3 separate regions of the Homo sapiens genome follow, and all the other regions are reported to be linked to region 3. The links are microRNA targets in miRTarBase. Many come from high-throughput screens and were not tested one by one. Region 3 holds a microRNA gene; each other region holds the end of a gene's coding sequence. Distances are from middle to middle.

What was found. Region 3 holds the annotated microRNA hsa-miR-4653-3p (UGGAGUUAAGGGUUGCUUGGAGA, at 3,497-3,519, shown strand). A microRNA usually pairs through its seed, bases 2 to 8, with sites in the 3' UTR of a target mRNA and lowers its output. Matches are read on the target gene's strand: a 7mer-m8 pairs with bases 2 to 8, a 7mer-A1 pairs with bases 2 to 7 and ends in A, and an 8mer does both.
Region 1: miRTarBase lists KIAA1143 as a target of hsa-miR-4653-3p. Seed matches in the 3' UTR shown: 7mer-m8 at 5,766-5,772 and 7mer-A1 at 5,043-5,049.
Region 2: the mRNA of UBN2 is a reported target of hsa-miR-4653-3p. Seed matches in the 3' UTR shown: 7mer-A1 at 3,542-3,548 and 7mer-A1 at 6,835-6,841.

The regions. Positions count from the first base shown.
Region 1 is chr3:44,745,567-44,756,903 of GRCh38, forward strand. It overlaps KIAA1143, which reads right to left. Exons shown (of 3, transcript NM_020696.4): 2 at 8,658-8,802; 3 at 3,178-7,986. The coding sequence ends at 7,775. Among named protein-coding and RNA genes, the nearest start is that of KIAA1143, 10 kb to the right of the region's middle.
Region 2 is chr7:139,294,639-139,305,975 of GRCh38, forward strand. It overlaps UBN2 (ubinuclein 2), which reads left to right. Exons shown (of 18, transcript NM_173569.4): 18 at 3,149-11,337. The coding sequence ends at 3,198. Among named protein-coding and RNA genes, the nearest start is that of TRR-CCT4-1, 40 kb to the right of the region's middle. RefSeq lists a silencer at 1-104.
Region 3 is chr7:101,156,028-101,164,268 of GRCh38, forward strand. MIR4653 (microRNA 4653) reads left to right here and starts at 3,446; the gene lies at 3,446-3,528. AP1S1 (adaptor related protein complex 1 subunit sigma 1) reads left to right here. Exons shown (of 5, transcript NM_001283.5): 2 at 567-745; 3 at 1,350-1,458; 4 at 3,032-3,169; 5 at 4,492-5,249. The coding sequence ends at 4,539. It overlaps VGF (VGF nerve growth factor inducible), which reads right to left. Exons shown (of 2, transcript NM_003378.4): 2 at 6,482-8,241. The coding sequence ends at 6,969. RefSeq lists an enhancer at 334-1,533 and silencers at 6,711-6,800, 7,361-7,410, 7,571-7,710.

The sequences.
Region 1 (11,337 bases), not on the chromosome of region 3:
TTCTCACACCTAGCTATACATAAGAATCACATAAGGAGTTTTATAAAAAAGAACTGGATGTCCAACTATTAGGTTAAAGGTTGAAAAGAAAGTTTATAATGAGCAGTTCAAGCTTGTCTTAATCCATTTTTTGTTACTTAGAATACCTGAAACTGGGTAATTTATTTTAAAAGAGGAATTTATTTATTTTTGAGACAGGGTTTTGCTCTGTTGCCCAGGCTGGAGTTCAGTGGTGCAAACATGGCTCACTACAGCCTTGACCTCCTGGACTCAAGTGATCCTCCACTTCAGCCTCCCAAGCAGCTGGGACCACAGGCACACATCACTGTGCCTAGCTAATGCTTTCATTTTTGTAGAGATAGGGTCTCGTCATGTTGCCCAGGCTGGTCTCAAAACTCCTGGCTCAAGCAATTCTCCTGTCTCAGCCCCACAAAATGTTAGTATTGCAGGTGTGAGCCACCACACCTGGTCTGAGGGATTTACTTCTTAACAGTTTTGGATGCTAAGAAGTCCAAGGTAGAGGGGCCACATCTGGTGAGGGTCTTCTTGCTGGTGGAGACTCTCTGGAGTCCTGATGCAGTGTATCATATGGTGAGGGGACTGATTATGCTAGTTCAGGTCTCTCTTCCTCTTCTTATGAAGCCACTAGCCCCACTCCCATGAGAGCCCACTAATCCATGAACCTATTTACCCATTAATGCATGAATGAATTAATCAATTCATGAGGGCAGAGCCCTCATGACCTAATAACCTCTTAAAGGCTACATTGGGGATTAAATTTCAACATGATTTTGGAGGGTACAAATATTCAAACCATAGCATTTCATCCTTGGCCTCCCCAAACTCACGTCTTTCTCACGTACAACCCTGTAACTCCAAAAGTCTTAACAACCAGCATCAACTCAAAAGTCCAAAGTCCAGAGTCTCATCTATGAGCCTATAAAATCAAAACAAGTTATTTACTTTCAAGATACATTGGTGGTACAGGAAAAAGACAGATTCCCATTCTAAAAGTGAGAAATAGGCAAAAAGAAAGGAGTAACAGGCCCTAAGGAAGTCTGAAACCCAGGAGGGTAGACATTATTATTTTTTTTTTGAGGCGGAGTCTCACTGTATTGCCCAGGCTGGAATGCAGTGGTGTGATCTCAACTCACTGCAACATCCGCTTCTAGGGTTCAAGTGATTCTGCCGCTGCTGCCTCAGCCTCCGGAGTAGCTGGGACTACAGGCATGCACCAGCAATACCCAGCTAATTTTTGTATTTTTAGTAGAGATAGGGTTTCACCATGTTGGGCAGGCTGGTCTCTAACTCCTGACCTCAAGTGATCCTCCTACCTCGGCCTCCTAAAGTGCTGGGATTACAGGCATGAGACACTGCACCTGGCCAAATCTTAAAGCTGGAGAATAATCCCTTTTGCCTCCATGTGCTTCCTCCTGGACACACTGGGGCGGGGATTGGGCCGCCAAAGCCTCAGGCAAGCCCACCCCTATGGCATTGCTGGGTGCAGCCCACATGGCTACTCCTACAGGATGGAGTCTGGTGCCTGCAGCTTTCCCCAGCAGGTGCTGCATACTGCCTGTGATTCTGTAGCTCTTGGTGATGGTTCTGTTCCCATGGCTCCACTATGCATGGCCCTAGTGAGGACTCTCAGTAGTGGCCTTGCTTCCACAGCTCCACGATGCATTGCCCTGGTTGGGACTTTCTGCAGTAGCTCCAGCTCCACATCTCTGCTCGGTGTTGCTCTACTGGGGGCACTCTCTTTGGGGGCGGCTCCACCCCTGCAACAAGTCTCTGCCTGGGCAGCCATCCTTTGAAATTTTGGTGGAGGCTGGCAAACATCACATTTTTTTTTTTTTTTTTTCCTGCAAGCCTGCAGAATTAGCAGGTGGACATCACCAAAATTTACTATTTTTACTCTGGAGCTTCAAATACATGTTCAACATTGCTTAGAAGCAGCATGAGGAAACAGGCCTCGTCTTTCTTCTTTGAGCCTCTCTTCTCTTGACTCCAAACTCACCACTCTTAGCAAAATAGATCTTGCAGTTAACAGAACCCACTGTTCTTAGGAAGCAGTTTCCCTAAGGATGGTAAGCACATCTCAGGTGCCACCATGTCTTGGTCTTTGTCTTTCATAACAAGATGTGCTTCCTGGCTGATAGCTTTTATGTTTACATTGCTAGAAATATCACCTGCAGTAAAGCCTTCACCAATATGATGTGTTTCAAGATTTAAGAACTTTTAAACGTTTTTCATATTCCTTGTTTACATTTTTCATCTTTTTTTTTTTTTTTGAGACAGTCTTACCCTGTCATCCAGGCTGGAGTGCAGTGGTGTGATCTTGGCTCACTGCAACCCCTGCCTCCTGGGTTCAAGTGATTCTCTTGCCTCAGCCTCTTGAATAGCTGGAATTACGGGGAAGAGCCACTGTGCCCAGCTGATTTTTGTATTTTCAGTAGAGATGGAGTTTCAACATGTTGGCTAGGCTGGTCTCAAACTCCTGGCCCCAAGCTATTGCCCCACCTCATCCTCCCAAAGTGCTGGGATTATAGGTGTGAGCCACTGCACCTGGCCCATTTCATTTTTTATTATAGTTCTAATAGAGTAGTCTTCCATGGTTTTTCTTCTGTGGTTTATACCCAAGTTACAGTACAACAAGATATTTTGAGAGAGTGAGCAAAACCACATTCACATAACTTTTATTATAGTATATTGTTATAATTGTTCTATTTTATTGTTGTTAGCAAGCGAAACCATTCACATAACTTTTATTATAGTATATTGTTATAATTGTTCTACTGTATTATTATTGTTAATCTCTACTGTGCCTAATTTATAAACTTTACCATAGGTATGTACATATAGGAAAAAACATACTACATATAAAGTTTAGTATTACCTGTGGTTTCAGGCATCCACTGGAGGTCTTGGAATGTATTCCCCATGGATAAGGGAGGACTACTATAGTCTTTATCAGTGGTTCTCAAACGTGAGTGAATATCAGAACCACCTGGCTGGCATGTTACAGTGATTACTGGGCCTTACATACAGTTTCTGATTCAGCAGGCAAGGACCAAGATTTTAATTTTTAGGTTTCTAAGGGGTTCTGATGCTGATGGTACAGGGTCTACACATGAGACCTACTCATCTATAAAAAGAAAATTACAGACAACACTCTCATTCATTTTAACTATGTTTATTGTGCACTTAGTAGGCCAGATACTCTTCTGATATTTGAGAATACAGTGGTGAATAACACAAACTCCATGCTTTCAAGATTCCCACACCCAGATACTAAGACATATTAAAATTTACAGCAATTAAAACAGTGTAGTTTGGTACAATAACACATATAGCAATGATACAAATTAGGGGAAAAAACCCTGGCTTCTATAACAAGTGAGTATACATTAAAGACAGTATTGCAGAATGGCTTCAGGATTAATTTGATTAATTTAGAGAGAGCCTATTTCAGGTCTTCCTAGCTCATCCACACACATCACCTTTCAGTGTTCTTTATAGGTACTTAAAACTTAAAAAAAGGCCCAGGCGCGGTGGCTCCTGCCTGTAATCCCAGCACTTTGGGAGGCCGAGGCAGGTGGATCATGAGGTCAGGAGATTGAGACCATCCTGGCTAACAAAGTGAAACCCCGTCTCTATTAAAAATACAAAAAAATTAGCCGGGCGTGGTGGCGGGCGACTGTAGTCCCAGATACTTGGGAGGCTGAGGCAAGAGAATGGTGTGAACCCAGGAGGCGGAGCTTGCAGTGAGCTGAGATCGCGCCACTGCACTCCAGCCTGGGTGACAGAGCGAGACTCTGTCTCAAAAAAACAAAACAAAACAAACTTAAAAAAGATAATGTGGCACCAAATTTGTAAGATACTTTGAAATTCATAATTTCAGATGGATGTGGCTGGTAAGGATCTTAACAAGCCCCCAGTTTGGGCTGACTTTTACTAATGAGGAAAATTGTTAGGATTAAGCAGGGTCTTGAGGAATCACCTCTAAAGGCTCAGACTTTAAAGTGCTTCCCCTCCCTTCCCTACCCCAACATTTGGAGAAATCTCTCACTAGATGGCCTTTCAAATAAATGAGAAACACATGGTTCTAGGACAATTGATTATTTGAGAAAAAAGTATACTCTAATAAATTCCAGATAGAATAAAGGTTAATGTGAATAAACAAAAACAAAGAGAATATGGGTAATTCTTTTTTTAAAATTTATTTCTATTTTTTATTTTTTTTGAGACAGTTCTTACTCTGTTGCCCAGGCTGGAGTGCAGTGGTGCAATCATAGCTCACTGCAGCGTTGAACTCCTGGGCCCAAGCCATCCTCCTGCTTAGCCTCCTGAGCAGCTGGGACTACAGGTGTGTGTCGCTACACCTGGCTATTTTTTATTTTTTGTAGAGATAGGGGTATTGCTTTGTCGCCCAGGCTGGGCTCAGATTCCTGGCTTCAAGCAATTCTCCCACCTTGGCTTCCCAAAGTGTTGGGATTACAAGCATGAGCCATTGTGTCTGGCCTGGGTGATTCTTTATCTGACATAGAGGTTGGGAAACAGAACAACAAAAAAAAATTGATAAATTACATAACTTACAAATTAGTAAGAAAGATATGACCATACTAATGGAAAAAAGTTAATTCAAAAACTTTTGACCTTAAACTAACTTTTTGGATATTAGGCTTCCTGAAGTTCAAGAGTGACATATTAGGCTTATATTAGGCTTATTTGTAATGTTTGAATTATACAGGAAACATTGTCAAGTGTGAGGTGGTGTTTAGCTTCCTTTGGGTTATACTGATAGAGATTTGTTGTTAATATGTGTTCCAGGATTGTATGAGAGTTCTAAAATTCTGATATGTCTTAATATATGTTGTAATGATTATGTTAAATTGTTGTAAGCCACAGAAATAGCCACATTTGTCAACTGTGTCTTTATGGCTGTCTTAAGACTTTTGTCATCCATAATTGATGTTTTGCTCTGATCCTTCTCAAAAAAAAAAAGTGACTTATAATCAGCTACAGTCCAAGGCTTACTTCTTTGGAGTTCATGAAAAGAACTCTTGAATGCAGGTTTCTGGTAACTTTGGAGAGTGTGCCATTGGATTAGACAGAAAACTTCCAAGGCACTAATTGAAAGGCTGATGTGTTCATAAAGATGAATATGAAGTAGAGCAGGAGTTGATTACATGGACTGAAATGAACTAATGGAAGACTGAAATAATTTGTATGGCTTTTGTTGTTTGAAATATTGCTACTTCTTTTTGTTTTTTCAGAGTCTGAATAATCTTTTTATTTTGAGCTATTTATAGCCTTGAAATACACTTTAAGTGTATTGAGTATTCTAATTTCTCCAGAATTTGTAAACTATTTATGAATATTCTTAATTCATGGCATTTGTCTGTATAAAGTTAATAACCACGTTTTCTTTTGTAATAGGGCACAATTGAAACCGGTTACTTTCTCAGGACTTTGACTGAAATGGCCTTGTGAAATGTTCTAGCAAAGCCAATCTAGGAGAGTCTATATGGACAATGATTCTTGTTGCACTTTGTGTGGGTAATCAGGCCCAGTATATGGGACTGCAGTTTATTTTGAAGTTAGGTCGGTTCTGCTGTGATTTGTCTTTGGTGGAAGTGGTAGACTGGAGACAGAAATATTGTATGTCCCTAAATTAATATAGCTCCCAACAACCAATCCCTCATTATACCTTTAACTGCAACCACCAGACACAACGGCTAGGAATAACAGCAGAGGTAGGAATGGGAGTTAGCGGGATTGCAACTTCCCTATCCTATTACCAACGCTTGTCCAAGGATTTTATGGAAAGCCTGGATAACATTGCTCAAAGTATTGTCACCTTACAAATTCGGATAGGCTCCTTGGCAGTGGTCGCTTTGCAAAATCGAAGGGGACTAGATCTCCTAACTGCTGAAACAGGTGGCTTATGTATTTTCCTAGAAGAAGAATGCTGTTTTGATGTCAACCAATCAGGATTAGTAAGGGACACCACCTGAAAACTAGCTGACTGGGCCTCTAAAATATGACAACAGCTGGGGCACCTAAAGGGCACTAAGTTGGGTTTCATGGCTCCCTCCCTTGGCCAGCCCATTATTAATGATTATATTTGCCTTGGTTTTTGGACCATATCTGTTAAATCTTTTAACCAAATCCATTTCCTTTTGCCTAGAGACCACCAAGTTAGATGATCATGTGACAAGATTTCTAGCCAGTTTCAGGAGAAGACACCACCGGCCATCAAGAAGCTACCCTGTCTCCCCTAGACAAAGCAGGGTGAGAGTTACGTGATCTCCAATAGGTAGGGACTGTGTCCCAAGTTAGCATGAAGCAGTTACAGAAGAAAGACCCTCAGTCTCTCAGCCTCCCATAAAGATTTACGAGGATCACGTCTCTCAGGGGGAAAATGAGGCAGGAGAATAGGGTCTGGAGACAGGGAACCTAAGGCTGATTCACATTGACTTCCTAGAACTGAATCAAAAGGAAAACCCCACCTCTCCATACCTAAGTAACAAAAGGATCAGAGGCTACTCCCTTTGCAATCCCCTTGCCTTTTCTGCATTGCAGATGAAAAATGAAAGTGCCTCTGATTGGTCCCCTCCTGCAACCAATCAGACTGGTCATAGGCCAAGTCCTCATTTACACAGGAGTATAACTTTGTAACTTCACTTCAGCCTCTGATTGGTCACTTTCTGCACCAATCAGACAGGTCACGGGCCACTACTTCATTTACACAGGGTGTACGCCAAGTAACCAATGGCAAACCTCTAGAGGATATTCATTGCTTTGTGCGTTTTGTTCAATTATTTGTCCAAAATGCCAAGAACCTGGACACCCTCCACCAGTAACAGTTTGACCAGTTATTTATTGTATTACTTAGGACTGCATTTGGCTGCATATAAAAGAAACCTGACCAAGGCCTAATTAAGCACAGTGTTTATTCTTCTCACTACCAAGAAGTCAGAGGTCAGCAATCCAAGCTGGTGTAGCAGCTCCTCCAGGCATGTCAGCAAGGAGCCAAGCTCTGAGTCTTTTTACTAACATGACCCAAAGCACATGGCTGCCTTCCTTATGCCTAAAAGTGGCTCTGGTACTCAGGTTTTATCTCTGCACTCCAAGTAGGATGAAAAGATAAGAGCAAAGGCTCATGTTTGCCAAGTCTGTCCTTTTGTAACAAAAAACCCAGCAGCTTTATCAAGCAGAATTCCACCTGTATTTCTTAACTTGCCAGAGCTGAGTCTCATGGCCACCCTTAGCAGGAGTTGGGGAGGTATTTTTAACAAGGCACATTATCATCTCCCCCACCCAAAGTGGAGCTATTGCTAATGAAAAAGATACAATGAGATGTTTATGAAATTATCTGTAGCTATTAATGTCAGGTTTTTGAAATTTACTGACCTGGAAGAATACTCGTAATGCAATGTCAAGTGAGAAGCAGGACAAAGAACATTTGCAATACAGTTGTATTTATAAAATTTTGTTTACACACAAAAAATGTATTTTGCTTAAAAATATAATTTACATATATATACAACCACACAAGGGAAATAACAAAATGTTAATACTAGCTAATTTCTATAGAGTTGGCATTTTAAGTCAGAGGGGTATTGATGAATAGATGTAGTTTATTAAATTTTTTTCTCTATTTCCTAAACTTTCTATAAAGAACTTGTAGTATCTTTATAATAGGAAAAAATGTGATTTTAATGAACACTCCATATACTTTCAAAGTAGACTAAATTCAAAATATTTACACTTACTCATTTTCATCTTCGTTGTCAAAAGAAAGGAGGCTACTATTTTTAATTTGTTTTTGTGAGTTCTTTTTGACCGAGTCCTGATTTACTTCATCTTCATTTGGCTTCTTCTTTTTTGAGCTTGCTGTTAAACCTGAATATTTTTCATCTGAGGGATGCTTGACTGGTTTTCGATATATGATTCTTCCATCGGCTGGAGTTGGTTCTTCATCTGAGCAAAAACAGAATTTTTAAGAACTTTCTTCTCCTCATTATTTTGCCTTTACCTTAGAAGCAAATAATAAGAAAATCTCATATTGTATTTAAGGATATCCCTGAATCTGATTCAGTCTGGTCTTCTCCATTGTTTCTAGCTATATTGCCCTCAAGGCATGCAGTTACTTAATAAAAACTCACATGCTAAAGTATTCTATAATATTGTCAGTTCCCAATTACAATCAGGTTGTATTTTTAAGTAGTTTGAAAAGTGACTGTTTGGAACTACAGCATTTTCCCCTAAAGCAATGTAGTAAATGTTCAGAAATAATGAAAAATATACTACATATCATACCAAACTTCAGGCAGTAATGAAATACACCTTTTTTGACTGGTTTATAAGTCTAACCATCTATTTAAAAAAAAAAAATAGGATGCTTTTACTTAAATTCACACTTAATCCTGGTAACAACCCAATAGGTACAATTATTTCCATTTTACTGATGAGGAAATCGAGGCTGAGAGGTGTAATAACTTGCTCAAGGTTACACATCTGGTAAGTGTCAAAGCTAAGGCTTGAACCCGGAACTGCCACCTTGAAACACACCACACTACTAAATAAAATAAACAATTTCATACCCTGGGCTCCTTAAATTGTTAGAAAAACCAGATTACTTTTAGACCTACCTGCTTTGGCAGCCTTTATTTCTGCTTTAATTTTCATGACTTCTTCAACTGACAGGTCTCCCTTTTTTAAAACCACCACTTGAGGCTGTTCATCTTCTTTGTCACTGTGATCCCCATCTTCATCTGGGGGCTGAGGCTGAATTCTCTAGGGAAAAACACAAATACAATGTGTAGATCACTGATCTTGAGACAAACAGAACCACTGCCTCTAAGAGAAACTGTAATTATTTATGAGAAGGGTATCTTTATTGAGTAAATAAGGGCAATGAATTTTAAGGTAACTCCAAAGAGACTTAGCTTGCCACACAAGGGAACAGGTTTAACTGCCATTCAGCCTGGAGTGCCTGTCCGGTGGGATTCATTTCCATCTCAGCAGGACCCAGCTTGTAGTTACTAGTGTGAGGGACCCTCTGCTTTGGGTACTGCTGTCACTCCTAGCCTACTCAGGGCAGCACTGTGCCATGTCAGTTGTTTGCTCCTCATCAGCACTTTTTGCCTGTCTCTTCTCTGAGTTAGACAAGAAATAAACACCATCAAAGTACAGAAAGCAGCAAGTAAAACGTACTCTCTCTCTCACCTCTGCTCATCTTTTCCCCCTCCTAATAGCTTCAGTTTGGTGGATATTCTATCAGCTATTTTCCACGTCTATACAACTATGTAGGTACATAAAACTTTTTGTATACCAACAACACTGTACTTATTCCTGTGACTTGCTTTTTCCCTATTTATGAAATTTCTCAAACATAAAGTACAGAGAATAACATAACAGAAACCATGTACTCCCTGTATATGTGTAACAGATGGTAATATTTTGCCAGTTGATTCAGATTTTTGAAATGTGAGACACCGTAAGAGCCCCACTCCCACAACTTAACTCAAAAAATATCTTTGTACAGTACTTTAAGATATAGAATTATCTGATTTTTAAAAAATCACTGCCTTGCATTTAATTACATATATGGTCACCTCAAGATTTATTTGACCAGCATCTTGTAAATACAAATTTTGCTCGTTTCCAGATTTTTTTCTACTATGAAAAAACCTCATGCACCCATTTTTGCTCACTTTTGGGAACTTGTATGCAAGAACTTTTAATGTTAACAGTTCACTAGAGGTGGAACTGTTGGGTTGAAAGGTATGCATACCAAAATATGTTTTCATATGTTATTCAAACACAATCACTCATTACTCCACTTCTCATAGAGACTTCCTGGTCTCCCAAACAAGGCGACAAAGCCCTGCAAGAATTAGCCTCAGCCCATAACCACAGCTTTATCCTGTACCACTCTCTCATGGCATCTAGACTCTGGCATGGCAAGGTTTGAGTACTTGGAGATTTATAAATATATTAGCTCCTTTGCTTCCCCTGTCTCTGAACAAATTCCTACGGCTTATTAAGCCCCACAGCCCCTGAGCAACTCCTACTCAAGCTGCCTTCCAGATTTAGAGCCTCTAGAAGTGCTTACCTAAATCTCACCTTCTCTTGTTTCTTACACTGTGCATAGCTCATAGGTAGCATGTATTGCACTGTGGTACCAATGTTTTTCTGCTGGTTTCCACTGGGCAAGTGCCTTCTGGAGAGGCACAAAGCCTGGAAAACAGCAGGGACTTCCAGAAATATTTGTTGATCTACTCATGAATGACCAACAGAATGGAAAATGATGAACTACATGAAGCCCTGGCAAGTTGCTTGTGCCATTTTAACTATAACTCAAGTTCTCAAGTCTGCTCTATCACTGCACAAGTACATTCTCTTTAATGGTATCTATGTTAGTTCACTGATTATTCATCAGTTTCTGCCAATTTTTCTCTGAAAGTCTCCAATAAATGACCACAAATAGGTAGTAAGTATTTTTAGCCAAAAATATGGGAAAGTGAAATAAAATCATTCCTTTTGTTTGTTAAATTGAGAATAATTAATTCTGACTCTCTTCTCTTTTTTTCTTTTTAAATGTGACTGCCTGGAAAACAAGAGAAATAGTCTAAGGACAGTGGCAGTAGCCACTGATGACTGTTCAGAGACATTTCTGAATTAACTCTCAAGAAAGTGAATAGGGCCAGGCGCAGTGGCTCATGCCTGTAATCCCAGCACTCTGGGAGGCCTAGGCAGGCAGATCACTTGAGGTCAGCAGTTCAAGACTAGCCTGGCAAACATGGTGAAACCCCCCGTCTCTACTAAAAATACAGAAATTACCTCGGTGTGGTGGTGGGCACCTGTAATCCCACCTACTTGGGTGGCTGAGGCAGGAGAATTGCTTGAACCCAAAAGGTGGAGGTTGCAGTGAGCTGAGATCGAGTCACTGCATTTCAGCCTAAGCAACAGAGAAAGACTCCGCCTCAAAAAAAATAAAAGTGAATAGGATGATTTAGCTTAATTATGGAATGATTTCCCATGAAACTCATTTCTTTTTGTTAATAGATGACTAAAATCCTGACTGCAGTAGTCCCCTCCTTATCCTCAATTTCATGTTCCACAATTTCAGTTACCTGTGGTCAACTGTAGTATGAAAGAAGGGTGAGTACAGTACAATAAAATATTTAGAGACAGCAAGCAAACAAGCAAATTCACACAACTTTTACTAGAGTATATTGTTATGATTGTTCTATTATTAGTTACTAATCTGCTGATATTCCTAATTTATATAGTAAACTTCATCATAGGTATATATGTATGGGAAAA
Region 2 (11,337 bases), 38 Mb from region 3:
GAGACCAGCCTGGCCAATATGGTGAAACCCCGTCTCTATTAAAAATACAAAAGTTAGCCAGGCCTGATGGCGCATGCCTGTAGTCCCAGCTACTTGGGAGGCTGGGGCAGAAGATTTGCTTGAACCCAGGAGGTGGAGGTTGCGGTGAGCCGAGATCACGCCACTGCACTCCAGCCTGTGCAACAGAGTAAGACTCCGTCTCAAAAAAAAAATTAATATGATCCAAGCTGTATGCATTATGTCCTTGTAGGCAGCCAGATCGCTCTGAAATCTGACATTAGGCAGTCAGATTAGGCAATGTGCATAACACACTGGGCTCCAGCTTCTCGTTTTCCCCAGCAGTCTACCTCCATAGACACTGATATTATTCTGAAGCCCATTTTCAGGATCTTTTGAGCAGAAATAACTGCTTAGCTGCCCTCTTAACTTTGGAAGTTGACTAGGCCTCACTTTTTTTTTTTTTTTTGGCCACTGCATTAAAAATGACCTTTGAACCAGTTTACCATTAACCACAGTGCAGAGATGGGAACTGAGGGGCAATCTTGAGGCAACAGATTGCCATTAATCCTCTGAAAGACCTAAGTGGTGAGCTGTCTCAGTCTTAACCTTGAGAATGAGTATAAAACCACAGTTGTGTAAAATGGGTAACACAGAGTCGTGGCACAAATGTCAGCAATCCCGATCTTCCTGAACTCTGACTAGTTTAAATATCTAAAGAGAATTTCCCTGTGACTAAAGCATGTCCCCCCCTGGGTGTAGACAGCTGCTTGGTATAATGAATCCAGCTGAGGGTAGTGTACTCATGGGCAGATTGGCATGAATGTGGCCACCTGCAAGGAATTAAACAAGCAGGATTCTTGTGGCTCAAAAAGACCCCAGTGTTCGCTCTTACACGAACTATCAAATTTATCTGTGCAGCACTGCTATTCCGAGGGGAGAAAGGAAATATGACTGTCAGTATTTTCCAAATAACTAAAGTTAAAAAGTTTAAAATTTTTCAACCAGGCATGGTAGCTCATGCCTGTAATCCCAGCATTTTGGGAGGCCAAGGCAGGCGGATGGCTTGAGTCCAGGAGTTCGAGACCAACCTGGTCAACATGGTGAAACACTATCTCTACAAAAAATACAGAAAATTTTCTGGACATGGTGCTGTGCACCTGTAGTCCCAGCTACCCAGGAGGCTGAGGTGGGAGGATCACCTACACCTGGGAGGTTGAGGCTGCAGTGAGCTCTGATTGTGCCACCGCACTCCAGTCTGGGTGACAGAGTGAGAGTCTGTCCCCCCCAAAAAAAAAAGTTTAAAATTTTTCCTTTAAGAAACATTTTAAAGTGTAAGTCACTGAACTTGAGGATCAGACTTGGATTTTTGAATTCCAGAACTGCCAGTTTGAGTAGGCTTGTTTGACCATCACTTTCTCTTGCTTGTAAACTGGAGACAACAAATGTTTTTTAATGACTTCATATGAGAATCTAATAAAAAATAATTGATTTAAAGCTTCTAGCTTGGCACCTGGTGCATAGTAAGAGCTCAGTTAATGTTGATTAATTTTATTTAGTCTAAAACAAAGGTCAGTAAAATTTTTCTATAAAGGGCCAAATAGTAAATATGTTAGGCTTTGCAGGTCATATGGTCTCTGTCACCACTACTCAACTGACCATTGTAGTGAAAAACAGCCATAAGGAGTATTTAAACACATGAGTATGACTGTAAATAAAACTTCATGTGCAAAAGCAGGCAGGGAATCAGATTTGGCCTATGGGCTGTAGTTTGCCAAACCCTGGTCAAATTTGTTCCTTTTCACCTGTGTATTTCTGCTATTCATGCCTCTTCCCTCAGAGTAAAAGGTTTCCTTCTCCTGTCCTTTGCTGTCAGGCATGGGTTGTCTTTGAGGCCTCATTTTTCTTGCTAAGGCCATGACCTGTTGGAGACTTTCTCCATATTCTGTTGGCTTTCCAAGTCATTGGGCCTTACCCTTGCCCTGGTATCCCCCTTTCCTCTCCTCCTGTCCAGTTTTTGTAGGTAATTTAGTTGAGGCTTAAATGAAGTAATCAACATTTTTTCTGCAAGCATTTAAACAGCAGTATGTAAAAATAGAAATTATTTTGAGCTGGTGTGGTGGCACACACCTGTAGTCCCACTACTTAGAAGGCTAAGGCAGGAGGGTCTCTTGAGCCCAGGAATTTGAGGCTATAGTGTGCTATGATCGCACCTGTGCATAGCCAGTGTACTCCAGCCTGGAAAACATAGCAAGACTCTCTCTTAAAAAAAGAAAGAGCCAGGCGTGGTGGCTCATGCCTGTAATCCCAGCACTTTGGGAGGTTGAGGCAGGGTGGATCATGAGGTCAGGAGTTTGAGACCACCCTGACCAACATGGTGAAACCCTGTCTCTACTAAAAATACAAAAATTAGCCGGGCATGGTGGTGTGCGCCTGTAATCCCAGCTACTCGGGAGGCTGAGACAGGAGAATTGCTTGAACCTGGGAGGCAGAGGTTGCAGTGAGCTGAGATCGCGCCATTGCACTCCAGCCTGGGCGACAGAGCGAGACTCCGTCTCAAAAAAAAAAAAAAAAAAGGAAAGAGCCTTGTCCCAGTAGCAGACTTTCCTGTCACTTAAAGCTAGGTTAGAATGAGCACACACTCAGCTGGATGTTTTTCACTACAGATGAAAAGTTTGCTACGTTTGTTTACACAAATAATCAGGAATTATGAAATGCTGTGTCCTGGCAAGAAATTTTATTTCACTTACAAAAAAAAAAAAATGAAATTGACCTGTCTTCCAAAGGAGTTGAAAGATGTAGTGGGTCCCTCGGAGGTAGGAATTGTGTCTTCTGGTTCCTTTATAACCCTCTCACAGCATTTGACACAATTGGCTGGGACGTAAATGATAAATACTTGTTGAAATCATATTTAAAAAACACTGAAAACCACAGTCATTTGAGAGAAGAGGATCATTGTTGTTGAGTTTTTATCTCCATGATGTTTTATCAACCTCTATAATGCTATATGGCATGCAAGATATTAAAAGTGATATCTTTTCAGAGATGTCATCCACAAAAGATAAAAGTTAATTGTTGTTTTTGCTTTGTTTTTGTTAGCTGGTTTTTGTAACATATGGACCCATACCAATTTAACGTCTCTTTTTCTCAGATGGAGGCCAAAGTAAAGGGGACACTAAATTACCACGGAAATCTCAGTGACTGCCCAGCAAGCAAAGGAGACGAAATGTTTAGTTGACTGATGGAATCTACCTGATGGGAAAGTACTTATGTGGTCATAGGGCTGCTGTTTCTGTCGATGTTTACATTCTCTCGTCCCAAGCACTGTGGTGAGGAGGAAAAAGAAAAGAAAACATTACTTGAGCAAAGCCAGGTGCAGGAGGAAGAAATGCTTTTGTGCAAAGTTAGTGACCTTTGGTCTCTTCTAAAGAATGACAGAGTTACCGTATTAACAGACTTGAAAGAGACTCAGTTGTCAAACCCACAGAAATACAAATTTGATTTTTCCCGGGGGAGGAAGAAGGAAGTGAAGAGAATTTGGGTAAACTCCATCCATCCTGGGGGTTGGATCTGAACACTTACAGACATAATTGGTAATAAAAGGCATTAAAAACTGGAATTAGGCCAGTTTGTCAGGAATAATGATCATGTCTATTTGAATGGACTGTGTAGCAGATTTGCCACAAAAAGAAATAATAATGATTCTATCTCCGATAGACAGTAGCTGCATAGCACACCCTCGAAAATCCTGAACAAACTTGAATCTCCTCCAGTGTGTAGCAACTTCCCTCAATCAGTGGACTAAAGATCCTTCAGGAAAGTTATTTTAGCACAGTGATATATATTATTAAATCATCTAGATTTTTAAAAATCAGGAAGTTGAGCCTGTTGCTCTTAAGAGATGAAACCTAGATGTCCCCTTTTTGTAAAAGGGTCAATTTCATCTTCCGTTCAGAAGCAGGTACTTAACTCTTTTCTTCAGGTGATTTGTGCATCTAGTATTGACTGGTTAATTCTTATTTCCATTCTTGATGTTAAAATGTGACTGTGTTCACATTTTTCTCCTGAGAAATGGGGATCTTTACAGGGTTATTGCTTTGCTGCTTTTAGCCCTTGCAGCAACATAAACTCTAAGTTTCCCCAGTTCATCTAACTTCACAACTTCTCCTTCTGTTCTTTTAGCTAGTGGTCCTTCAGGTGATTATTAGCTATTGGTATAAACAGGTAGAAGTGTACACTATGTTTCTTCATTGGTCATTCAAATGGCATGAATATAGTTTTTGAATTTTTAAGATGGTATTTTAAAGGGAGGAATCACATTAGGATCACAATCACGACATATTTTTACTCCCTGTATCCAGTGTAGTGAAATTGTTTGGAGCATTTGAGATCCTAAAGCTTCACTATTTACTCAGTGTATTGGTATGTGAGTAAATCTGCAGAAAATAAGACTCCTTAGTTATTATAGCTTCCTTATGCAAATAGCATATTCAACAAAGGATGTTAAGGGAAAAATTTATGGTTCTCCTTGGATACATTTGATTTGATGGGTTTTTTTGCCGCATTATTCTAGTTTTTTAAGCTTCTGAATATTTTCATACTATATCAGAGAATGGTGTAAACTCTAAATGGTATAAGCTTCATCCATTTATAATGACACTAACCTAAAAAAAATAGACTGGTAGTGACAAGATTTATTGCATATGTGTTTATTATACATTACCCTATACCATTAGATTTACTCAATTAAGAGTATTAACCAGGCCCTTTTTTCTTTTATACACAAAAGTCCCAGATACCCTACAGGACTGTGAATAAATAACCACAGATCGGTTCAGATCTGTATGCCTATATTTTGACTTCAAAGTCACATTGGCTTGCTTCATAGCGAAAAAGTTAATAAATAACTGAAAACTTTAGTTCCAAGAACTTGTTACAGTAAAGGGAAAGGATTATTTCAAAGGAATCACTGATATAATTTCTTGACTCTAAGAATTTAGTTTATCAATAAAACAAATATGGATGTAGTATGAACCCCAGTAGATATTTTGGAAGGATACTGGGAGGATGTTGCAGAGAGGTTTGACTTGAATTCAGTATGTTTGATGAAGATTTGCTTGGTTTCAATTAAGGAAGCTTGCCCAATTTTTTTAATTTTTTCAAATGTAGTGGACCTCTTGCTTTTACGAAATATGAATAAAAAGGTCTTTGCTTCATACTAGGGGAAGTGATGGGATTTTCCTTTGGGAAGGTAGCCTTTGTTTTACTTCTCATACCACAAGAGAAGTCGAAGTGCGTATTAATTTCTCTTCCTGAATACTTGTATATATGTTTGTCTGTATGTATATATACATACACACATACATTCATATAAATGACTAGTTTGAGTCAAAAAATCATTTGAATTTCTTAAAACCATCAATTCTGAATCATGCCATATGAAGATCCCTGGTGACTGTCATCATTAGAAAAGAACAAGATAATCAGTTCTTTTCCCTGTAACATTTTATACTAACCAGTAAAAATATCTGAAGGCCCTTGGCTCCAAGAATACAATGTGGAGATTCTTCTGTGTTCTCTTTAGTCTTGATTCCTTGAGGACTACTGTCAGATCCCTACCTTAAACCCCCACCTGCACTGACGACTTACATTCATTTCAGTCAGGACCCCCCTTTTATGTTGTATGAATCAGTCAAACATCGTTGTATTTCTGTATAGATAAAGTATGATCAGAGAGTTTCTACATGTAAATAGTAATCTATTTCTTTCCTAGATCATAACATTGAAAAAGGTGCCCATACTTTATGGTCACCTGTCTTTACCGTTTTTATTACTAAAAACAAACATATAAATTGGTTATTTTTTAGCACAGAGACTTGTGACTCATACTGTATTTTTGCACTTAAAAATCAAATTATGTTATTTTTTAAAATGGTGAGTCATTGGAAAGGATATCTATAGAGCAACGTGTATTTCTGAAGAGCATTAGCAACATCCAAATGCAAAAATAATCAGCACACATGATTATATCCCACTCCTTGGGATTCTTGATTCAGGAAGATTAAGCTGTTTGTTTTCAACTGTTTTATATTTTAAATTGCCTTCACTGATATATAAGCTGTTACTGTACATACAAGTTAATCCTCAGTATTCACAAGCAATAACAGTCAGCAGGGTTGTCCTCGGAGATAGCTGTGCTGAGCCTCAGTTGGAGACTGGGAGCAAAGTGTCAAGCTCATTCAGAGCATCCAGAATAAATGCAAGCAATAATTTCCATTATAATTCAATTATAATTCTTGTATGCTTTTGAGGTCAGAGGGTAAATGAAATCGTGATTTTAAAACAGCCTGAAGAAAAAGGTTTTGGGAAAGGAAATGAGGCTAATCTGTAGTCATAAAATTCTGATACTTTGCGGAAATTAGAAGATGGTGATAGTGCATTCTTTTGTGCCCACCCCCCCTCTGATGGATGTTGTTAGCCCAAATTACATTTTTCATATCATGGACATTGAATAGGGTTTATTGAATCAGGAAGGTAAGGGGAAGAACCGGGCACATATGTGTTGGAATACTGTGGGTTTGACACCTGGTTGAAAACAACTTATTGGACATGATTTTTAACCCAGGATATTTTTTTCCCAAAGCAGATCTAAATTGTTTACTACCCAGGGTTGGAAAGGGCAGGCACCTCTAATCTAGTCTTTGTCCTCTGGTTGCCCTCTCCCACACCCCTTTCCACCTATACTTGGTTCAAGACATTTTCTGAAACGAAAATTCTGCTGTTGTTCAAACTGCCATTGGTTATGAGAACTCTGCGTCCTTTGGGATCATCTCTTAGAACTCCAGTGATCTATCATATTTGCTGCTACATTTGTAAAATGAACTTTGCCTGTATTGGTTGACTTTAATTTACAGTTCTTTATTTCTAGGATGTTTTGTCCTCTAGTTTGACTCATGTATAGAATTAGGATACTTTATTTTAGGAGTGTACCGTAAAAGCACACTGGTCCCTTTGTTGTTTTTATTATTTAGGTTTGGAATTTGTTTGCTTTTTTTTTGTTTGTTTTTTGTTTTGTTTCTGTTTTTGTTTTTTTTTAAAGTTGGAAATAGAAGAATGAGAAAAATCTATAATCAGGCCAAACTTGAGAACTTTCCTGTGCTTCAGCACTGTAATTCTGCTGACCTAATGTTCTCAAAAGAGGCACTTTTACTTTCTATTGTGCATGTATGATTGTTGTTTTTTGCTTTTGAGGGGGCTTTTGTGTTTGTAATAATGAAGCAGAAGAAAAGTGCAGTAGTAGATAAATGATCACAACATGTTATGCAATTTTATTTTATAAAATTTTAAGGGGAAAAGTTTAACTCTTTGTAAATCATTTCTTAGCTCTGGTAAAATGCTTATATTACTCCTCTAAAACATGCTCAATTCAGGCCTTTGTCTTTGTTAAGTGCCTTTTTTCTTTCTTTTTTCCTCTCTTTTGAAACTGTTGTCACATTATCTTAAAGTACAGACTGATAAGTCAGGGGATTCAGGAGGAAGAATCTCACACTTGTCAACATCATGTCATGCTGTGTAACCCTCTTCCTTTGCTTTCTATGTATATGGATATATGTGTAAGATACATACATTACATATATATAAAACTAGGAGCTGCTGTACCATTGCATCCTTTCCAAACACTCCCCTTTCCATGTTTGCAAAACTTCTGCCTTGTTTATTCCATTGCTTTTAGTTGATTAAAGTGGGTGGATTAGAAAAGTATCTTTTCGGCCGGGTGCGGTGGCTCACGCCTGTAATCCCAGCTCTTTGGGAGGCTGAGGCAGGTGGATCACGAGGTCAGGAGATCGAGACCATCCTGGCTAATATGGTGAAACCCCGTCTCTACTAAAAATACAAAAAATTAGCCAGGCGTGGTGGCAGGCGCCTGTAGTCCCAGCTACTTGGGAGGCTGAGGCAGGAGAATGACATAAACCCGGGAGGCGGAAGTTGCAGTGAGCTGAGATCGCGCCACTGCACTCCAGCCTGGGCGACAGAGCAAGACTCCGTCTCAAAAAAAGAAAATAAAAGTATAGAAAAGTATCTTTTCACAAGAGGCCACCTTCGCCCTTTGAATATCTGCTTGTAGAAGTTAACAATAACAACACACACACACACACACACACACACGTCAGTTACTACAAGTAAAATAAACTTAGTGAATCATTGACTATTCTTGGATATAACCCACTTTTCTGTGCTCTTTAAACTTGGCATAAGTAATATAGGAGACAGCATTGGAATAACAAGAGTACCTTGCAAGTCACATTGGTAAGGTGCGCTAGACTAAACATGTGACAAGGCTAGCGTTAGAACCGCAGTTTGGTGTCTAAGTTTAGAAGCAGGTTAGCAACTGTCAACATGAAAAATGTATCATATTTTCTTCTGGAAAATGATTTTTGAAGAAATCATATAGCTGCATATCTATCTGTTAAAAGGTTAATAAACTCAGAAGTAGAAAGACTTCAGATGCTGAGGAAAACATATAATCTATAGCATTCTTGAGAGATTTTCCATTTGCTTTTTATTTGCTAGATAATTACATTTGGCTTAATCTGATTTTATGGTTATTTAGATTTCTCCCTTGAGCAAAATAACATAATTTTCAGTATCTAAGATTCATCGATTTTTTGTTGAAAACAAATAGATGTGACATGTTAAGGGAGACCAAGTTGAACCATCCCTCAGACCCAGTACAAATATACCTAGTAAGTGCCCCCCTTTCAATACATTCTAATTGGGAAGAAGAAGAGACTAGTGGCTTAAAAGGAGAAAGCAGAAGCTCCTGGTAGTGTTACCTGATAGCAGAACTTACCAGGCAGTTGGAATTCACGAGTGTTATTCTTGAATGACTATGTCTAGGGGGAATATTGTTTAACCTTCGTGCCTCAGATTACCCATTAGACAATTGGGTATAATCATATTCACCTACCTCCCAGGGATATCAGAGACTTTACTATTTCAAAAATATTTTGAGTTTTTGTAAAATGTCCTATATAATTAAAAATAGTATTATCATCTTCCTGCAGAGGCTAAAAAATGTTTTCCTTATAATGAGTATAAAAAGCACCCTATGGTTTTTAAATTTAAAAAAATCACTGGAATTTTAATTTAGATACATATTTGTTATTTAAACATTATCTTTGAGGTGGGATAAAATGTTTAGTTTCAGGTTAACAAGGGAGAGAAATAACACTAAGTTTAAGTAGTTTTTTTTAGCCTTTTACGGTGTTACTGTGATTTTTCGTCAAGGTTGTGGAGCTAAAGTTAGATAAAGTTATGATGCTTGGTTATTGGAGTTGATAAATGATCCTGGAAGTTTTAACTGTCTCACTTTTCCATCTTCTCAGTCTAATTTCCTTTTATTGCTTGTTTGAGGACGGATAGCTAAGCTTTTTAACTTTCTAAGAATGAGTATGATGTCTCATTCTTGCAAATCAGAGATTGTGTACTAATTCCATTAACTGTAGGTGTATCCAGCTCTGCACTGAAGGGGTGAGCACTACACACAGTCAGCTGGATACTCTTGTAGCCATTGCACCTTTGTAATTCATGCTTCTTCAACCCATGAAAGAGGTGGAGCCATCAGCTGCTCAGGTTGTAAGAAAATGGGAGACGGAAGGCAGGATTCACTTTCTAACTGGGTCGGGGTGGGGAAGGTCAGGGTAGAAGGAAACATGTTTTCCCCAGCTCCCAGGAGGAGACGAAGATCATTTTATCCCACCTTCCATCCCTGTATATTAAGTAGTACTACTACATAGAATTTTCCCGTTATCGTTTAAAATAATAGCAACAGGAAAAGAAAAATGGATGCTGCAGTTTTAGTTGGGGCTAAATGCTGAGCAACGATTGTTGGAGTGTGTGTGTAAATTTAAATTGTAGCACATATTCAGGGTCAGGAAAGCAAAATGTTGGGGATGAGGAACCAGTGTTACCAGGTTCAAGTGAGTTAGTAGAAAGCACCAGGTCCAAGCAGACAAAGCATCTGGTTAATTTCCAGAATTGGCTAAGGTCCACTGAATCTCTAATGATAGGGTGTGTGTGTGTGTGTGTGTGTGTGTGTGTGTGTCTGTAAGTCACTTTTTGGATTTTTGTTGCTTTTTCCAGATAAGGCCTTAGTAGCCTCTAAATATCAACTATGCAGATAAACATACTCCTTTTTTTTTTCACATGTCCCTGTCTTTTCCATTCTCAGATAACAAATGTTAAGACCCAAAGAAATAAGGCATAAGGGTTTTTGTTGAATGTGTGTTTGTTCTTCTAGGGAAAATTAACAGAAGCATAAAATAGAGATACTTTGTGTGTTCATCTATCGTAAAATGTGAACTCTGTATTCAAAAACTATCTACAGATGCTTTCACTGGTGCAAAGCTGTAGTTAGTATCATGGAATGTCTTTGGGTTGTTAATGATAAAATCATCCCAGTGTTCAATTCTGAGAGTTTTAGATTATATGACACAATGTTCAGGTTTATAGAGCTGAATGGGTGATCAAACTCTAATTAAAAATAGCTTTGAATATTAATGTTGAATTCTTCTTTCTTGGTTTCCTTTAGTCTTCATTCTTTATTCAGAGCTCTTAATCATATTGCTACACTAGAATATGAATTGTATATTAGGAGTCTGGGGAGGAAAGGTTAAATTGTCTTTTACATCCTCTTCTCACTCACTCTGGCAACCTATCCTGTGTCCCCATAGAACTGAGAAGTAAAGCCCTGTGCAGGCCTGCTTTAGAAGACTTTACATCCCAGCAGAGGATTCAGGCAGGGACTCTCAGGATTTTAATCAGACTGCCTTTGAATAATGTGATATTAAATTTTATTTTTCTCATAGACTCTCAAAGTACCACTTGCTTGAAAGTAGCTACTTGTGATCTTTAATTTCCTTATATTGTGATAGTTCTACTTTTCAGTCTTTCCTGTGTATCTCCATTTCATAGTGCGTTAGTACTTAAACTTCGGACACTTTTCCAAACTGTTAAACAAGTCAGGAATGCTTTTCAGAATCGCAGTAGTATTATTAGGGTCTCTGTGTCTAGGACTTACAGTCATCAGTGGTCATCACTGGGACTAGAGGTGTTCTTTTTTTTCCTCTTCTCCTTTGTATTAAAAAATAGATTTTGCTACTGTATAATGCGGCATTTCATGACTTCCTCTTGTTACTTTTCAAGGTTATTCTAAAGAGATGGAGATCTTCATTAGAGGCTATTTCTCATAATAGTCTGCCTTGCTTATTTTCATACTCCCCCTGAAATAAGCCTACTTTTGCAAACAGGCCATATGAATCAAATTTTATGTTTGTTCCT
Region 3 (8,241 bases):
GAGACCAGGGCCTGGCCAACATGGTGAAACCACATCTCTACTAAAAATACAAATATTAGCCGGGCGTGATGGCACGTGACTGTAATCCCAGCTACTCAGGAGGCTGAGGCAGGAGAATCGCTGGAACTTGGGAGGCGGAGATTGCACTGAACAGTGATTGCGCCACTGCACTCCAGCCTGGGCGACAGAGAGAGACTCTGTCTCAAAAATAATAATAATAATAGCTAACATGTTATACTGCCTGCCTGTGCTAGGGACTTGCATATATCAAATCATTTAGTCTCACCTAACAACTGTGCAAGGCAGGTACAATGTCCATTTTACACATAAGGAAACTGAGGCCCAGAGACTTACAGTAGTAATTGGGCCAAGGCCTTGCATAACTAGTAGAGCCAGGATTTGAACCCAGCTGACAGACTCAGAAGCTCTGACTTCCCCCTGCTGGTGGAAACACCCAGCCTTGAGAGCAAGGGGCTGGATGTTGGAAGAAAGTAGAGAAGAATTAGCTGGAGATAAGTTTGGGGAATGTGTGGTTACCCTCGGTTCTGCCCTCCCATCCCCCACAGATGCGGTTCATGCTATTATTCAGCCGGCAGGGAAAACTGCGGCTGCAAAAATGGTACCTGGCCACTTCGGACAAGGAACGGAAGAAGATGGTGCGCGAGCTCATGCAGGTTGTCCTGGCTCGAAAGCCCAAGATGTGCAGCTTCCTGGAGTGGAGGGACCTCAAAGTTGTCTATAAGAGGTGACTCCCCACCTACTTTCAGACCTGCCTAGATTCAAGTTGGGCAGTGGGTTAAAATGTCTGAGAAATGGTCGTCCTGTAGGTCAGGGAGACCTGGGAGCTGAGGACATCTGGAGGACAGTAATGAATGTCAGCTTCCTTTTTTTTTTTTTTTTTTCTCCCCAAACTCTTAAAGAAGTTCTTGTTTACCACTTGGTTTTGCTCACGTGCAACACCTGCCTCACTCACGTGTCCCTTTGGGCCCTGTCTTGCCCCACTGCGCATGTCCCTTGCAGTCAAAGGTCCTGCCCTACTTTTCCTAACACACACGCACACACACACCCTTTCCGGTTCCTTCTCCTCGGAGCAGGTAAATTACTTGGCTCAGGTTTTTGCTGAGTCAAACTTAGGAGGTCAGAGGGCAGGAAGGAAAAAGCATGCGTTCTTTGCATGTTTTTAAGACAGCACAAAGAGGCAGGTGAGTTACTCTTTACATGCCCTAGGGCCACCTCACCTGTGGCCAGCCAGGGCACAGACCACCTCCAGGCTGGTGAGAGGTTTGAGACCAGAATGCCTGGGTCCTGAAGCAAGCTTGTAGCGATGTCTCATGCGCTCCTCTCCGCAGATATGCCAGCCTCTACTTCTGCTGCGCCATCGAGGGCCAAGACAATGAGCTCATCACACTGGAGCTGATCCACCGATACGTGGAGCTCTTAGACAAATACTTTGGCAGTGTAAGTCTCCTCTGCCCACCAGTTTCCATTCCCAGCAATCCCCTTTGGTAATCCACCAAACTTTGAGGCCCCTCCAGTCTCTGCCCTGGAAGTTTCAGGGGAGAGGTGAAGTTGGAGCAGTAAGAACAGTAATTAATTTCCCTTTTTAAGCTTTAAGCCTATTAACCATGTCCCATAATCGTCCCTGAGTGGGGAAACTGGGGGCAGGATCAGGCACTTAATCTCCACTTAGAGCTTAGCTCGGACTTTTCACACAGAGACCAAGTTCAGATGTTTTGATTAGTTCAAATTTTTATTTTTTTAGAGACACAGTCTCACCCTATCACCTGGAGGAATGCCGCCTATGGCTGGAGTGCAGTGGCACAATCGTAGCTCACTGCAGCCTTAACCTCTGGGCTCAAGCCATCCTCCTGCCTCAGTCCCCTGAGGAGGTGGGACTGCAGGTGCACACCACTATGCCCAGCTAATTTTTGTATTTTTTTTTTTAAGAGATGAGGTCTTGCTATGTTGCCCAGGCTGGGTCTCTAACTCTGGGGCTCAAGTGATCCTCCCACCTCAGCCTCCCAAAGTCTGGGATTATAGGCGTGAGCCACTGTACCCAGCCCCATATTCAGATTTTTATCACTGGTTGCTGATCTTGGATTTGCATTGGAGTTTTCTGGAGAATTTTTTTGAATGGCAATGTCCAGGTTCCACTCCCAGAGATTCTGAATTAACTTATCTGAGGGACAGCTCAGATCTTAGATGGGGCGTAGTAGTAACTCCATAATTTGTGTTATAAAGTGCTTTTGCGTCCTCTCGTTTGCTCCTTATCCCATCCTAGCAGTAGGTGTTGGTATCCCCATTTTTGAGGCCAGAAAACTGAGACTTAGAGATGTTTCATGACTTGTTTAGCTAGATGGTTAGTGGCAGAGCCCTGCTTGGAACTCAAGTCTTCCACCCCATGGTCCAGAATTCCCTCTTTCCCTGCCCCACAGTGTCCAGGAAGCGGGGCTACCACAGCCTTTGGTGGGAAGAACGTCACAGATTTTGGGGGGAAGGCAAGGGGAACCATAGACAAAGGTAGATAAGGCAACTAATGTTTCATGATCAGGAGGAAAGATGCAAGAGGAAGAGGGAAAAAAACTGATCCAAGGCAAGGCGCGGTGGCTCACGCCTGTGATCCCAGCATTTTGGGAAGCTGAGGCAGGTGGGTCACTTGAGGCCAGAAGTTCGAGACCAGCCTGGCCAACATGGCAAGACCCTATCTCTACAAAATATTTTAAAAATGAGGTGGGCGTGATAGCATGCACCTGTAGTCCCAGCTACTCAGGAAGCTGAGGCAGGAGGATCACTTGAGCCCAGGAGTTTGAGGCTGCAGTGAGCTGTGATCATGCCACTGCACTGCAGCCTGGACGACAGAGCAAGAGACCCTGTCTCTAACAAAATAACGAAACAAAAAAACTGAAAAAGCTGACCAATGACTAAGGCTTGGAGGTTGGGGGCAGAACCCAAGGTGGGAGGCACGGTCTTGAAAAGGAAGTGGCTCCAGTTGCCCCTCCATGCTCAACTTAGCCTCTCCCCGCCCTCCCAGGTGTGCGAGCTGGACATCATCTTCAACTTTGAGAAGGCCTACTTCATCCTGGATGAGTTTTTGATGGGGGGGGATGTCCAGGACACCTCCAAGAAGAGTGTGCTGAAAGCCATCGAGCAGGCTGACCTACTGCAAGAGGTACGGGCCAGGGACAGTGAGGAGGAGGAGGAAGCGCACAGTGGCGGACAGGGTCCTCCCTCCCCTGGACACCCGGCCTGCCCTGCCCACCGTCGCCAAGGAGCCCCCCCTCCCTGTGGTATCTGACCCCCACCACGCCCAGCTCTCCAGCTTACTCTCAAGCCCTGACCCCATGGGGTGGGAGGTAGGGTGGCAGATAGCCCACCTGTGCACCCCTCATTCCAAGCTCTGTCCTTCTCCCAAGCCCCCAGATGTCTCGTGGCCACCCAGTCTCCTTTGTCCAATTCTCTGAGCAAGGCTTAACACCAAAGGGTTAAGGGTTTGCTCTGGAGTTAAGGGTTGCTTGGAGAATTGGAGAAGGGGCACCTGGTAGGTCATTCTTTTCTTCCCTGATTTCTTCCCCCACCTCTCTTTTTTTTTTCTTTTTTTTTTTTTTAACACACACATACTCCAAAGCCTCTGCGTCTCAGGAGGAAAAGGCTATGGGGATTTGGGGGCTGGCAGAGGGCACCTGGATGTTGGTTCTCCCTGCTCCCCAGCGCCCCCGCCCTCACCCCATTACTGCCTGCCCCCTCTCTGCTGTGCCATCACCGAGCCCTGGTGCAGGGAGATGAGTCACCGGAATCTGCAGTGATGAGCGAGCCCGGCCTGAGCTGGCTCTGAGGAGGGGGAGAGATGGGGGGCGAGGGAGGGCTCATCTTTGCAGTGGGAGAGAGGGCAGAACTGAACTTGCCACCTCACTGGTCGAGCTTCACCTTCCCACACACGCACACACACACACCCTGGCGCGCACACACACACACACACACACATGCCCTGGCACACACACCCATCGTGTCACCAGTGTTGCGCTCAGACCCTAATGACGCATCTCCCTGCAGCCTGGTTCACCTTCCCTCAGGGACCTGGCACTCACCTCCCTCTGCCTTTTCCCCACTCTGAAAAACAGGACCCAGTCAGCTGTACCCCCCAGGGCCCCAGAAAGATCCCCCACCTCCTTGTCCCGGCTTCACTCCCTTTACCCCCAGGTGTCAAGGCGGGGCCCCTGCTTACCAAGGTCCTGGCTTTGGGTTCTCTGGGTGGTGACGGACTCAACCTGGACCCCCCCTGCCACTGTTGGCTGGCTCTGGGGCTGGCCCTGGGAGGCTGGTGGGTGCCCCATGAAGGGCTCACTGGTCCGGCCTTGGGCTCACATTGGCTTCTCTCCCCCTCCCCCGTGTCTGTGCCTCCCCCGTCTGACTCTTCCTCGTGACTGCTGTCTTGCCCACCCTGTCGGCCTCTCCTGGTGTCTCTGCGTCACCCTCTGTCTGTCTCTGCCTTAGGAGGATGAGTCGCCACGGAGTGTGCTGGAGGAGATGGGTTTGGCATAGCCCCTGCTGGGCCGGGGTGTGGCGATGGGGTCCTGGCAGCGTGGCGGGAACGGCTGCTTCTCCTCTGCCCAGGGCCCTGTTCTTGGTGGGACTCGGCTGCCCCTCCTCTGCTGCCTCACCTTTCGGAGTGAGCTGTGGGCTCAGGCCCTTCAAACATTCCCTCCCTCCACCCCCTACCTCCACTTTCCCCTTTTCCCACTGAAGGTTTTAGAAGCTAGGAGGCAGGAAAATGTGACCCAGATGGGGGTGCTATTTGGCTTTTATTCCCTGCCTTTGCAGAACTGATGTCACCCCAGATGTCCTTCCCTCCCTAATAACTGTAAATATATAAATATGTCAGGTTAAAGGGAAAAGGTGTTCAGGGCACTTCTTGTCCTCTCTGTCCCATAACCTACCTCCACCCTCCCCCTAGCCAGCCAGGCAGCTTCTCTGCCTGGGAGGGGAGCCTGGACCCCCCTCTTTCTCCTTGGCTGCAGTGGGGCCTTTATCCAGTGCCAGGGAGGAACAACATAGTTAATTTTTTTCTAACCTTGCCACTTTGAGGGAAGGAAGGGTTGGGGGAAGGGCAAGCTTTATGGGACCCTGGTCCTGGCCCTGGCCTTTCACTCCAGTTCTGGGTGAGGCAGGAGCTGGGAGGGGTGGGGAGGGGGAGGGGGAAGTGTCTGCCTTTATGTCCTTTCTTCTGAAATAAAAGTAAAAGCATTTCTGGACTTTGCTGGCCTTGGGCTCTGTGAAGGAAGGCAGGGCTGCTGGCATCATCGGGAGGCCAAGGGGATCCTGCCAGCCTTGGGAAGAAACGGAGAGCACGCAGTTAAATGAGAATTCCAGATACACAACAAATCATTTTAGGGATAAATGTGTTGCATGCAGTGTTTGGGACACATTTAACTCTAAAACTGCATCTGTTGTGTATCTGGAATTTCAGATTTCATTTCCTGTATTTTATCTGGCCACCCTACCTTAAACGGATTTTTATGCCCAATGCGTCTCCAAACGGGCTGCCCCCAACTCCCTGAGCTGCCTTTATGGAAGGAGGAGCAACTCTTCAGGATGCGGGTCTGTTGTGGGTGATTTCGTTTGCCCAGTTTAGTTTTATTTGAATCAGTTCACAAGTACCTGCGATTAGAAAAGGCTTAAGATGGGAGGCCAAGGTGGGGAGGTCGCTTGAGCCCAGGAGTTCCAGACCAGCTGAGCAAGCTGGCAAAACCTCATCCCTACAAAAAATGCAAACATTAGCTGGGCATAATGGTGCACACTTGTAGTCCCAGCTACTCAGGAGGTTGGGGTAGGAGGATCACTTGAGCCCAGGAAGTCGAGGTTGCAGTGAGCTGTGATTGCACCACTGCACTCCAGCCTGGGCAACATAGTGAGACCCTGTCTCAAAAAAAAAAAAAAAAAAAAAGTTAAGAAGTGGCTTTAGCCAGCATGTCTCTGTGGCTGCCACTCCCTCCTCCCCGCATTTCTTGCAAAGTACCTAGGACCAGGAATGTAGGGATCAGTGGAGGGAGGTGGGTGGGTGAACACAGGAAACTCCGGCATTACCCGCGCGGCCCCAGGATCTTGGGAAAAAGGAGCCCACTGGCACCCAGAGTTGTGGCACCTTCTGCGGGTCGCCTTTTTCTTTTGAACCAGAGGTCGCTGGACTGATCGCAGACAATTGGCTCTTTTATTGCATTCCGCTGGGCCTCTCTCTGTCAAGCCCTGGGGAAAGATGACTTTACCACCAGCCCCCAAGCTGGAAGTGGAATTTCGGGTTTCTTAATGGGTGCGAGCCACATTCTTCTCCTCTAAAAACAGTTTGAGGACTTTCCCCACTTACCCCTTGCCTTAGTTTGGGGGCAGGAAGCAGGAGGAGACGGGGACTGTGGCTGGCGCTTCCCTCACCGCCCCTTGGGAAGGACCACACAGGCCCAAGGGGACGGGTGAATAACCGAGAACAAAGTCCTAATAAAATAGTCACTTTTATTTCTTAGCAAAACTATTTCCTCCGTGAGGGGTATTTACAACAGAGAAAGGAAAGAAGGGGTCAATTCACAGCGACTTGGAGAGGCTGGAGGGGCTCGTGGGAGGCCCGAAGGGCTGGAGACAGACACACTTCACACAATTAACTGGAACTGCTTTTTCCGGTTTCCGACGGGGACGTCCCCAGAGGGACTTGATGGGGCCGGGGCCCCGCGTGGCAAGGGAACTCGCACAAACCACCCGCCCTCCTGGGCTGGCCCCCGGTCACCCGCGGGTGAGCTCTGGGAGTTCGGGCTCAGGACCCGGGAGGGGGGTCTGGCAGGTCCCGACGCAGCCCGGGGACAGGGGCAGGGCCAAGGGGCAGGGCCGGGGCGCATGCAAACACCGAGGGGGAGCGGGCAACACGGAGGGGGGCGCCGGCGCGCGCGCGCGGCGGGGGCGCGCGGGGGCGGGACCGGGAAGGGCAGTCACGGGCGCCGGAGCAGCACGTGCTCGATGTAATTCTCCAGCTCCTCCTGCTCCTGCAGCCGGCGCTCCTCCGCCTCCGCCTCCTCCTGCGCGCGCCGCGCCTGGGCCTCCCGGCCGGGATAGTGGCGCGAAGGCGGCAAGGCGTGGTGGTAGTGGCGGCGGCGCAAGGCCGAGGGCGGCTGCAGTGTCCGCGGCCGGATGTAGTTGGGGAAAGGGTGGTACGGCCCTGGCGGGTACACCTCGTCCTCCTCCCGATCCCAGGGCGGGAGCACCTCGTTCCAGTCCGGCAGCTCGTCTCGTGCGGGAGCGGGGGCGGGGGGCGGGGGCTGCGGGGAGCGGACGTGGGTGGGGGCGGGGGCGGCACGGGGGGGCGGCACGGGCTCGGGAGGGGCGTTCTTCTTCCGCTTCCGCTTCTCCTCCACCTCCTCGATGATGCTGACCACGTCGTCCGCTGGCAGGTGGAGTTTGGTGGACAGCTCAATGAGGCTGTCGATCGTCTGCGGATCCATCTCCTCGTCGTCCTCCTCCTCCCCGCCCTCCTCTGTCCCCTCGGCCTCCTTCCGCCGGTGGCCCGGCGTCTCCTCCTGGGAGCGCTTGTCCTCGGCGCCGGCTTCCCCGTCCTCCTCCTCCGCGAACAGGAGCGCGTTCTGCCGCGCCCTCTCCGCCTCCTCCGCCTCTGCCTCCGCCTCGGCCGCCTCCTCATCCTCTTCCCCCACCCTCTCCTCCCCGCCGCGTCTCTCCTGCTCCGCCTCCTCCTCCTCCCTTGCACTCTCTCGCTCCTCCGCCGCCTCCTGCAGCCCCCGACCCCCGAGGCCGCGCTGCCGGGCCCCGCCCTGCAGCAAATACTGGAGCAGCAGGTCCGAGGCGAGGTCGGCCAGCCGCTCTTCCTGCGCCGCGGCCTGCCGCGTGGCCTCCGCCTGCCGCCGCCCGGCCTCCACCTGCGCCAGCCCTTGCTGGAGAAGGCGCTCGCCCGCCTCGGAGCCGCCCAGGAGTGCGCTCTCCGGCCGGCGCGCCTTGGGGAACGGGGCGGCCACGCCTTGGTACGCCTTGGACAGGGGTGCCAATGCCTCGCCTAGGTGTGTTTTGGGGGAGGACACTCCTTCCCCGAACTTGTGGGTTTCGGGAAGGGGCCCGCTGTCGGGCATACGCGCCTGGAATTGAGAGGGGGCCGGGGGCGGCAGGGGCGCGCGCTCCGGGACACGCGCCTGGAACTCTCCCCAGGAAGCGCGCCATACGCGCTCTGGCCCCGGGCTCTCCAGATTCACTCGGGTC